2 linked regions of the Homo sapiens genome follow. Changing the gene in region 2 together with the main gene of any one other region gives a genetic interaction. Each region holds a gene or a part of one and is shown on either strand. Other genes may lie near its edges. The genes, in order: ARID1A and ZNF236.

Evidence for each region.
Region 1: changes in ZNF236 (region 2) and ARID1A together harm fitness more than expected from each alone (negative genetic interaction), as found in Homo sapiens cells (one large-scale study listed by BioGRID).

Annotation. Positions count from the first base shown.
Region 1 is NC_000001.11:26,702,231-26,706,037, reverse strand, and holds part of ARID1A (AT-rich interactive domain-containing protein 1A), read right to left. Parts: intron 1-3,807. UniProt on the Homo sapiens protein: Involved in transcriptional activation and repression of select genes by chromatin remodeling (alteration of DNA-nucleosome topology).
Region 2 is NC_000018.10:76,821,126-76,825,487, forward strand, and holds the start of ZNF236 (zinc finger protein 236), read left to right. Parts: upstream 1-1,431; 5' UTR 1,432-1,482; coding exon 1,483-1,537; intron 1,538-1,993; exon of another isoform or gene 1,994-2,224; intron 2,225-2,634; exon of another isoform or gene 2,635-3,232; coding exon of another isoform or gene 3,233-3,281; intron 3,282-4,362.

The sequences.
Region 1 (3,807 bases), on a different chromosome or scaffold from region 2:
GGAGGGTGACAAAAATCTGTCCTGGATTACTGGGTGATTTCTAATATGTACCATGACCAACACTAAGTCAACATTTTAGGGATCAAATTTCCTACTCTGCAGCATGTTGGAATGCATTCTTGGCATTAGACTTCTTCCCATTCCAGTCCACCCTTAGAAAATGCAGAAGCCACTGGGAAATAGACTCAACCTGTCCCAAGATAATATTCCAGCTATGCACAAGTGACTAACAAAAACAAACAGAAGTTCATTCAGATGTCCCTTCACATTCAGTAAAAAACTAATTTCATCCATTTAAATGGAGAGGAGGGGTAATTTCAGGAAGAATACTCAAGGCTACTAAGTCAATATTCACCCGAACTTGGATTCCTCTAAAACCTGGGAATGATCAGAGTTCAAGCCCCTAAACACCTGTAATCCATAGGAGGTTAACTATGGTGCCCAATTCTGAGTAACTGAAAACCCACTTTTGCAAAATGCCAAAATGGCAAGGCAAAAAAAGTGGAAAAGGTATTTCTAAACCAGAATGTTTATCCAAGACTCCAGTACTTTCAGCAGGTCATGGACCATTACTTGAGGGGGGGGGAAAAAAAAAAAAGGCTGGGCGTGGTGGCTCACACCTGTAATTCCAGCACTTTGGAAGGCCAAGGTGGGTGGATCACACCCGAGGTTGGGAGTTCAAGACCAGCCTGGCCAACATGATGAAACCCCACCTCTACTAAAAATACAAAAATTAGCCGGGCATGGTGGTGGAAGCCTATAATCCCAGCTACTCAGGAGGCTGAGGCATGAGAATCGCTTGAACCTGGGAGGCAGAGGTTGCAATGAGCCAGATTGCACCACTGTACTCCAGTCTGGGTGACAAAGTAAGACTCCATCTCAAAAAAAAAAAAAGGTCTGCAGTACTTCTGTACTGGAGCAGTGTAACCAATCCTTCTCCAGGTAGAAGCATTACAGTGGCCTGGCACTGGACATGCCATGCATCTTCAGCTGTTAAGCATCCACTGATGATCCTTGACCGGTGAAGTGCCAAGGCCCAACCACAGATCGACCAGCAGGTAAAGAAACCAAAATCACTATATTCCAGAGGCTCCACAAGGATTAAGCATTGGTGAGCAGCATTTGTTAGCTGCTTGGCCATAGTAACCTAATAAAAAACAAATTTTTTTTTTTTTTTTGAGACAAGGTCTTGGCTCCATTGCCCAGGCTGGAGTGCACTGGCGTAATCATGGCTTACAACAGCCTCAACCTCCTGGGCTCAAGCAATCCTCCTGCCTCAGCTTTCTAAGTAAACTGCGACTACAGGCACGTACCACCACATCCAGCAATTTTTGTGTCTTGTAAAGATGGGGTCTCCCTATGTTAATAGCCTGGTCCCAAGGCTGGTCCTGGGCTTGGGCAATCCTCCCACCTTGGCCTCCCAAAGTGCTGGGATTATAGGTGTGAGCTACCGCGCCCGGCCAAAAACAGTATTAAAGGCCATTTCTATGAATAAATGGGCAGACTGCATATGTGCAGGCTTACCTAACCCATCAACCTCAATATAAGGTCTAACACAAGCAACTTGACTTGAACACAGCTCCCAGCTCCTCAGAAATAGCAGCCTAAGAGTCCCAACAGATACTTACTTCGTGGCTCTTGTTTTAAGAAAGGTCAACTAACTCTGCCAAGACAGACTCACCAACAAAGTTGAACCACCATTACTACAGAGCTGTCCAGGGCACACAACTCTGAAGGTGACATGACCTTCCAAATCCAAATTTACTAGAAAAGTGCCCCTGAACTAGCCAAGAACTTAACAGTCTGTACCAAAGGCTCTACCTGACCACAAGAACCACTAAGACCCTGGAACCACTCTTTCAGGGAGTTTTATGGTTAGAGTCCAAATTCTCAAAGTCATTGGAACACTGAGACAGCTACTGGTCTGGAGATGGATGTGCAATGTGGATTCTATCAAGCCCATGGAACTTAAGAATAGCATTATGAAAAGGCAAATTAGTATTCTAAGTTTCTTGAACATTTAGCTTCACAAAAAAAGCCTCTGAAAAGCTGTCCCAGGTTAACCCTGCCAAACTGATTGAACCTTTTCCTCTAATTCCTTCAGCTCACATAATTAGTGTGGTCTACATCCATTTATGAAACCTTGCTTTTCAAGTTTTCCAGATGTGTGCACATAAGCATGCTTTCCTAAGAAAACTAAATGCCTCTGAAGGAGATATTGTTTCTACCTTTTAAATCTCTTCCTAGTACCTAGCTGGTGTAATCACATAGGGCTATTTCCCATCCCCATTGGAATTTCCTGATCTCTCTGACTTAGAAACTATGCTCTCAGCAATAAGTCTGAAGTTCCTAATACCCTCACTACCAACATACTGGGAAAGGACCATGCAATATTAAGCAACCTATGTCAGTGCCAATCCAAGTTTTTGTGTTTTGTATTAAAACAAGCTGATAGCCTTTGGTAGTAAGTTAGCTGAACCTAAAAATCATAGTCAGGACCATAATTACATTCATATTCCCTGCTACTATATAAACAGCTAAGTCAAAAGGGCACTTCCAGGACTCTGGTGTAAAAAACACTTCTTATAAAGAAAACTGGTGTCAGAATCAATGAATCTAGTTAAAAAAGACATTCTGAGAAGGCAAATCTGGTCATCTCACAAGGCTACCAAAGAAGAGGACCACAGACAGACAGCTAAAATATTCATAGATTCTTCTTCTTCTTCCATAAAAAGAATGTGTCACTGAAGGAACCCAGATATGTTTTTAATCCTAAAATGGCAATTTCAAAAACAAAGACTGTATCTACTCACATAATCCTTCAAGTAAGATGTAGTGAGTCCCCAAATATTTGGACTTTGTACTGACCCAGGAACAGAGTGTAAAGGCATATTAATTTTATCATAAGTGATACACAGAAGTCCAGTAAAAACTGTATAAATAAACCCAGGCCATTGGGTAGTGGACTTATAATCCCCAGCACAACAGCAAAATTGAGGATAAAGATCACACTCAAGTTGCAGTATCTTTTTTCTCCTTTCTAATATTCCAGAAATGCAAACCCAAGCCAAAAATAATCTCACCAAGCTACCCTTTAAACCTCAAAGTCTCATAAGCCAAGTGTCTGGGGTAATACTTACCTTACTATTGACAGTCAGGATCTTCTTTCCAAACTTCTATTTTCACTATGAAACTGCAATTGACTTTAACAGGATACCACATGCCCTGAACTTAGCACGCAGCCAGGGCCACAGAGGTTTCACTACCAGGGCAGCATCTTTCCATTTCAATTTTTTTTTAGATCACTTCTTATCTCCACACTCACTGCCCCCCAGCACTACCCTTTTCCTATCCCCAAGTCTTTTTCCCCAATGTTATTTTACTCCACCACATGAGGAGGCTAGCATTATCTTTGCTTGAAAACTGTTTATTAATTTGCCTGTCAAACATTCTATAGAACAGTTTACATCTTACTACAGAAACCTCCTGGGTACATATTGACAGCTCAGCAAGTATTTACACAAAGCTCTGAAACATTTGGTTCCTTCAGAGACGATAGAAGATGCTGTGTCAAGCACAGAATTATCAAACACTGTTCCCTCTACCCTTTTCCCTCCTTTATAAAGGGAAGCTTCCTTCCTCTAATATACCTAAATTACACTTCTAAACTACTAAGCCAGGAAGAGAAAGAATGGAAATTCAGGTGTGCTGGAGAAGAGAAAGAATAGCATTTCCAGGACCACGTGCAAAGCACACCATGTAGTTTTTTAAACCATAGCGATGAGAAACAACAAATGCACCTATGAA
Region 2 (4,362 bases):
TGGAGCTAGATCTTTGATGAGATTGAGTGAAGGCTGCAGTGGGAAAGGGTAAGCAAGAATGACTCCTAGACACCGCTCAGCAATAAAAAGCACTTAAAATATTTATCAATATATAGATGAATTCCAACATAATTATGCTCAATGAACAGCCCCCACTTCCCTAAAGATTACGTGCGATACAATTCCATTTATATAAAACACCAAGAAAAACAGGTTGGGCACAGTGGCTCACATCTGCAATCCCAACACTTTGGGAGGCTGAGGCAGAGGGTCAATTGAAGCTAGGAGTTCCAGAGCAGGCTGGGCAACACAGAGAGACCCCATATGTTTAAAAAAAAACAAAAAGCTAGACATGGCGGTCCTCACCTGCAGTCTCAGCTACTCGGGAGGCTGAAGCAGTTGGATTGCTTAAGGGCAGGAGTTTGAGGCTACAGTGGGTCCCGATCGTGTCACTGCACTCCCGCCTGGGTGACAGAGCAAGCGAGACCCAGTCTGTATAAAAAGATATTTAAAAACTCCAGGAAATTCAAACTATAGTGACAAAAAGCAGATGGGTGGGAGGGGGAGGAGGGAAGGAGGGAGAGAGGAAAGGGTTACAGAGAGACGGGAGGAACATCTTCACTGTTGATTGTGATGATGGTTTCACAGTGTATACATGTGTCAAGATGTATCAAACTGCACACTTTAATTTGCGCCACTGCACTCCAGCCCAGGTGACAGAGTAAGGTCGCTTTCCCCGGGCTCGGCCGGCCTCTCCACCCGGCGCTCGGGTGCTGCGCTGCCTGTTCCTGTTGCCACTTCGTGTAAGTTAGCGCAGGCAACAACACACAAGACCAGCACACGTGAAATGGTCCATTTTAATGCACTGCCCCCAGGGAAAGGAACATTACCGGCTTCTGGCCATGTCGTCTTCCCAGTCCCAGATGGCGGTTCCGGGTTTGGGCTCCGAGGCCCTTCGCAGCACTAGGGCGGCGCGAGTAGGGCCGCCCTCCGAGCCATGCTGCGGTCCGAGGTGACGCGCGCACGCGAGTTCGCGGACACGCACGAGACGCCCGGGCCACGGAGGCGCGGGGCTGGCCCAGGGTCCCCGCCAGGCCGAGCTCTAGGGCTGCCGGCCCGGCCCGGTGACCCCCGCGCTCCCCTCCGTCCGCTAAGGCCCCGCGGCGCCGCGCATGCGCCCCGCCGCCGCCCCCGCCCCCACCGCGCCCGCGCCCGCGCCCAACGCCCCCACCGCGGCCCGCGGGCCATGGAACCTGCCAAGGCCGGCGCGGTTCGAGCGCTCCGGTGCGCGCGTTCAGGCGCCTTTCCCCCGTGAGCCCGGCGGCGCTCGGACCGGGCCGCCCGCCGCCGGGCAGCTCCGCCCGCCTCTAGCGCCGGCTGGGCGCGCCCCCGCCCCGGTGCCCGCGCGTGCGCGCCCCCGCCGCCGCGTGTGAGTGTGAGTGTGAGTGTGAGTGGGTGTGGGTGCGAGCCGGGCCGCCGACGATGCCGCGGGGCCGCCCCCCGAAGCCCAGGGAGAGCAAGGCGCGCGGCGACTCCGGTAAGGCCCGCGGCCGCGCCCTCGCGCCCCGCCGGCGGCCGGTGCGGGGCCCGCGCCCTGCCAGTCCCCGGATGCGGCGCGGGGGGCGCCGGGAGCGGCGGGGCGGGGGCGGGGGCCGCGCAGACCCGGGCCGCCGCCGCCGCCGACTGGCCGGGCGGGCCGCAGCGCGGGCGGAATGATACGGGCGAGTCGCCGCCCGGCCCCTCCGCGCGCTGGGCCTACTTTCCTGGGCCGGGCGGCGGCTGAGGCGGGAGGCGGGAGGCGGGTGAGGGAGCAGGCGGCCGCCTCCTGCGCGCGCCCTGCCCCCGCTGGCCCTGCCGCGGCCCGCGCTGAACTTGAGGGAAAGTGGCCGCCCCGTGTTCCGTCCCGGGGCCGGAGGGCCGCGGGGCGCGCTGGGGAGGCGGCCTGGCCAGAGCCCGGGCCTGCGGATACCGCGCCCCGGGCTCCTCCCGGACGGCGCCCCCGCCCGACCCTGCGCGGCGCCGGCTGCCCCGGGGACGTTGGGCTCGGCCCACAGGGAGGCCGTGGAGCGCGGGGTCGTGCACACAGTAGGCGCCAGCGTTGTCCGGGAAGCGCAGGGTCGTGCACACAGTGTGCTCCAGTGTTATCTGGGGCGCGCTGTGGGGCGTGCATACAGTAGGCGCCATTGTGATCCGGGAACTTGAACCCTGAGCCTCTGCAGACGCTGTGGGTAGTGCATACAGTAGGCGCCATTGTGATCCGGGGGGCTGGAACCCTGGGCATCTGGAGAGCGCTGTGGGTCGTGCAAACAGTAGGCACCATTGTGATCCGGGTAGCTTGAACCTGGAGCTTCTGGAGAGCGCTGTGGGTCGTGCATACAGTAGGCATCAGTGTTATGTGGGGAGCGCTAGATCGTGCACACAGTAGGCGTCAGGAAGTGTTTTCCCCAGTAATTTATTCTCCATGGTACTTTGCTAAAGTCATGAAATAACTCAGATTTTGTTTTCCAAGGAAGGAGAAAGGCCCAGAATTTAAGAGCAGGCAGACACACAACCGGGCACCCCCAGACCCTGGCCCTTCCAGCAGTCAGGAATTGACTTGCCTTCCAAAGCCCCAGCCCGGAGCTTGAGGAACGGACTTTCCTGCGCAGGGGGATCGGGGCGCACTCGCCGGTGCCGCGGTTCCCAGGTCGAGGGCAGTGGGGTAGGGGGCGCCGCGCTTTTTCTCGCGGGCGCCGTGGTTCCCGTGCGGCCTTGGACGCGAGTCTCCCCCTGCAGGCCTGGTCCCTGGTCCTGGTCACCCGTGCAACTGGAGCGGCGCTCCGCGTTTGGAAAGGGTTTTGAAGGGGGTTCTAAGGGGGAGTGGGCGCCTAGGACTCCCTATGGGAGTCGGTGGGTTATACCTTGACTGCCGTTGATTTTTATTTAACTGTTTAGCTTAGTGACTCAAGTGTTCCCCTTTTCTTGGGGATGAGTAAACTGAGGCTCATTAAAGAGCTTGTGACCAAACAACACAGGTGCCCCAGAGAAAGGTCGGGCCTGGAAACTACAAAGGATTGTGTTAATTTTGTGTTTAGGAAGAAAGAGGTAATGGGTAGGAATCAATGTAAACTTATTCATAGGCCACACCAAACCAGGAATTCTTGTCGTGATTGCACTTGGTAGAGTTAACACACGTGCACATTACGGAAACGTTGGTGACCAACAGGCGTTTCAGCGAGCTTTCGCACACCTCATGGGCCTTTGTGGGCTGCTGGAGAGATGTTGGCTGCACCATGACCCAGGTATGCAGATTTGTAGTTGGATAACAGCAGTGCTCAGAATTTTGATTAATGGTTGATGGTGTCTGGCCTTTAAGGAAGTCTTTGTTGCCTCTCCCGCTTTTGAGTTTTGGCCTTGACCTTATTTCGTTAGTTTAATTGTTTTGTTAGTATGCCATCTGCCAAAAATAATGTAAGGTGCAGTGTCTCAGTTACTTGGAAGAAGGCTTAGGATAGAGAAAGAATGTAAAATTTCCACGGCCACAGGCGGGGCACCCATTCCCCCAGTATCCCCATCTCACCGATGGTATCCCTGTCCACCTGGTGTTTCACCCTCAGGCCTCAAGAATTATTCTATTTCTTTTATCCCCCAACACACTTCCTAATTTAGTGTTGCAGCTTCTACCTCGGGAATGTATTTCCAGTGGGCCCTCCTCTTTCCATCTCCAGAGATACCCTCTGACCCAGCCTCCCTCTCCGGGCTGGAGAGCTGCAGGAGCCCCCTTCCTGGGCCCTGCTAGTCCTGGGCTCCTGTAAATAAATCTGTCACTTGTCAGCGTGGATGAACTTGTTAAATGTAAATCAGATGGCTACACCCTGATTAAAAGCGTGCATTGGCTTCCTCATCCCTTTAACAGAAACCCATTCCTCCAGGATCCTGTTGATCGGGCCTTGTCTGACTCTTCTCTCTTTCCTTGCTCTGGCATGCAGTCTTTTGTGTTCCTTGATGCCACATTAGTTTTTGTCTTAGGGCATTTGCCATTTCCTAGTCTGAGAAGCACTTTTTGCTAGTCTTGTGGCTCCAAGTGATTTAGCGTCTTCAGAGAGGCCTTCCTCAAACCTGCTTAAAAGTTACCTTTCCCTTCTGAACACCAGTCCTCCTGTAGCAAAGTGGTTCTCAAACTGTGGTTCCTGGACCCCTGGGGGTTCCCTGAGATGTTTTCAGGCTTCTGTAAGGTAAATATCATAGACTAAGACTGTTAGGCTTTTTCACTCTGTTAATTTTTGCACTAATTGTACAAAAGCAGTTGTTGGCACAACTGCTGACATCTTAGCACGAATCTAGGTGGTGGTGGCGGTGCCTAAGAGTGAGGCTGTATTACCT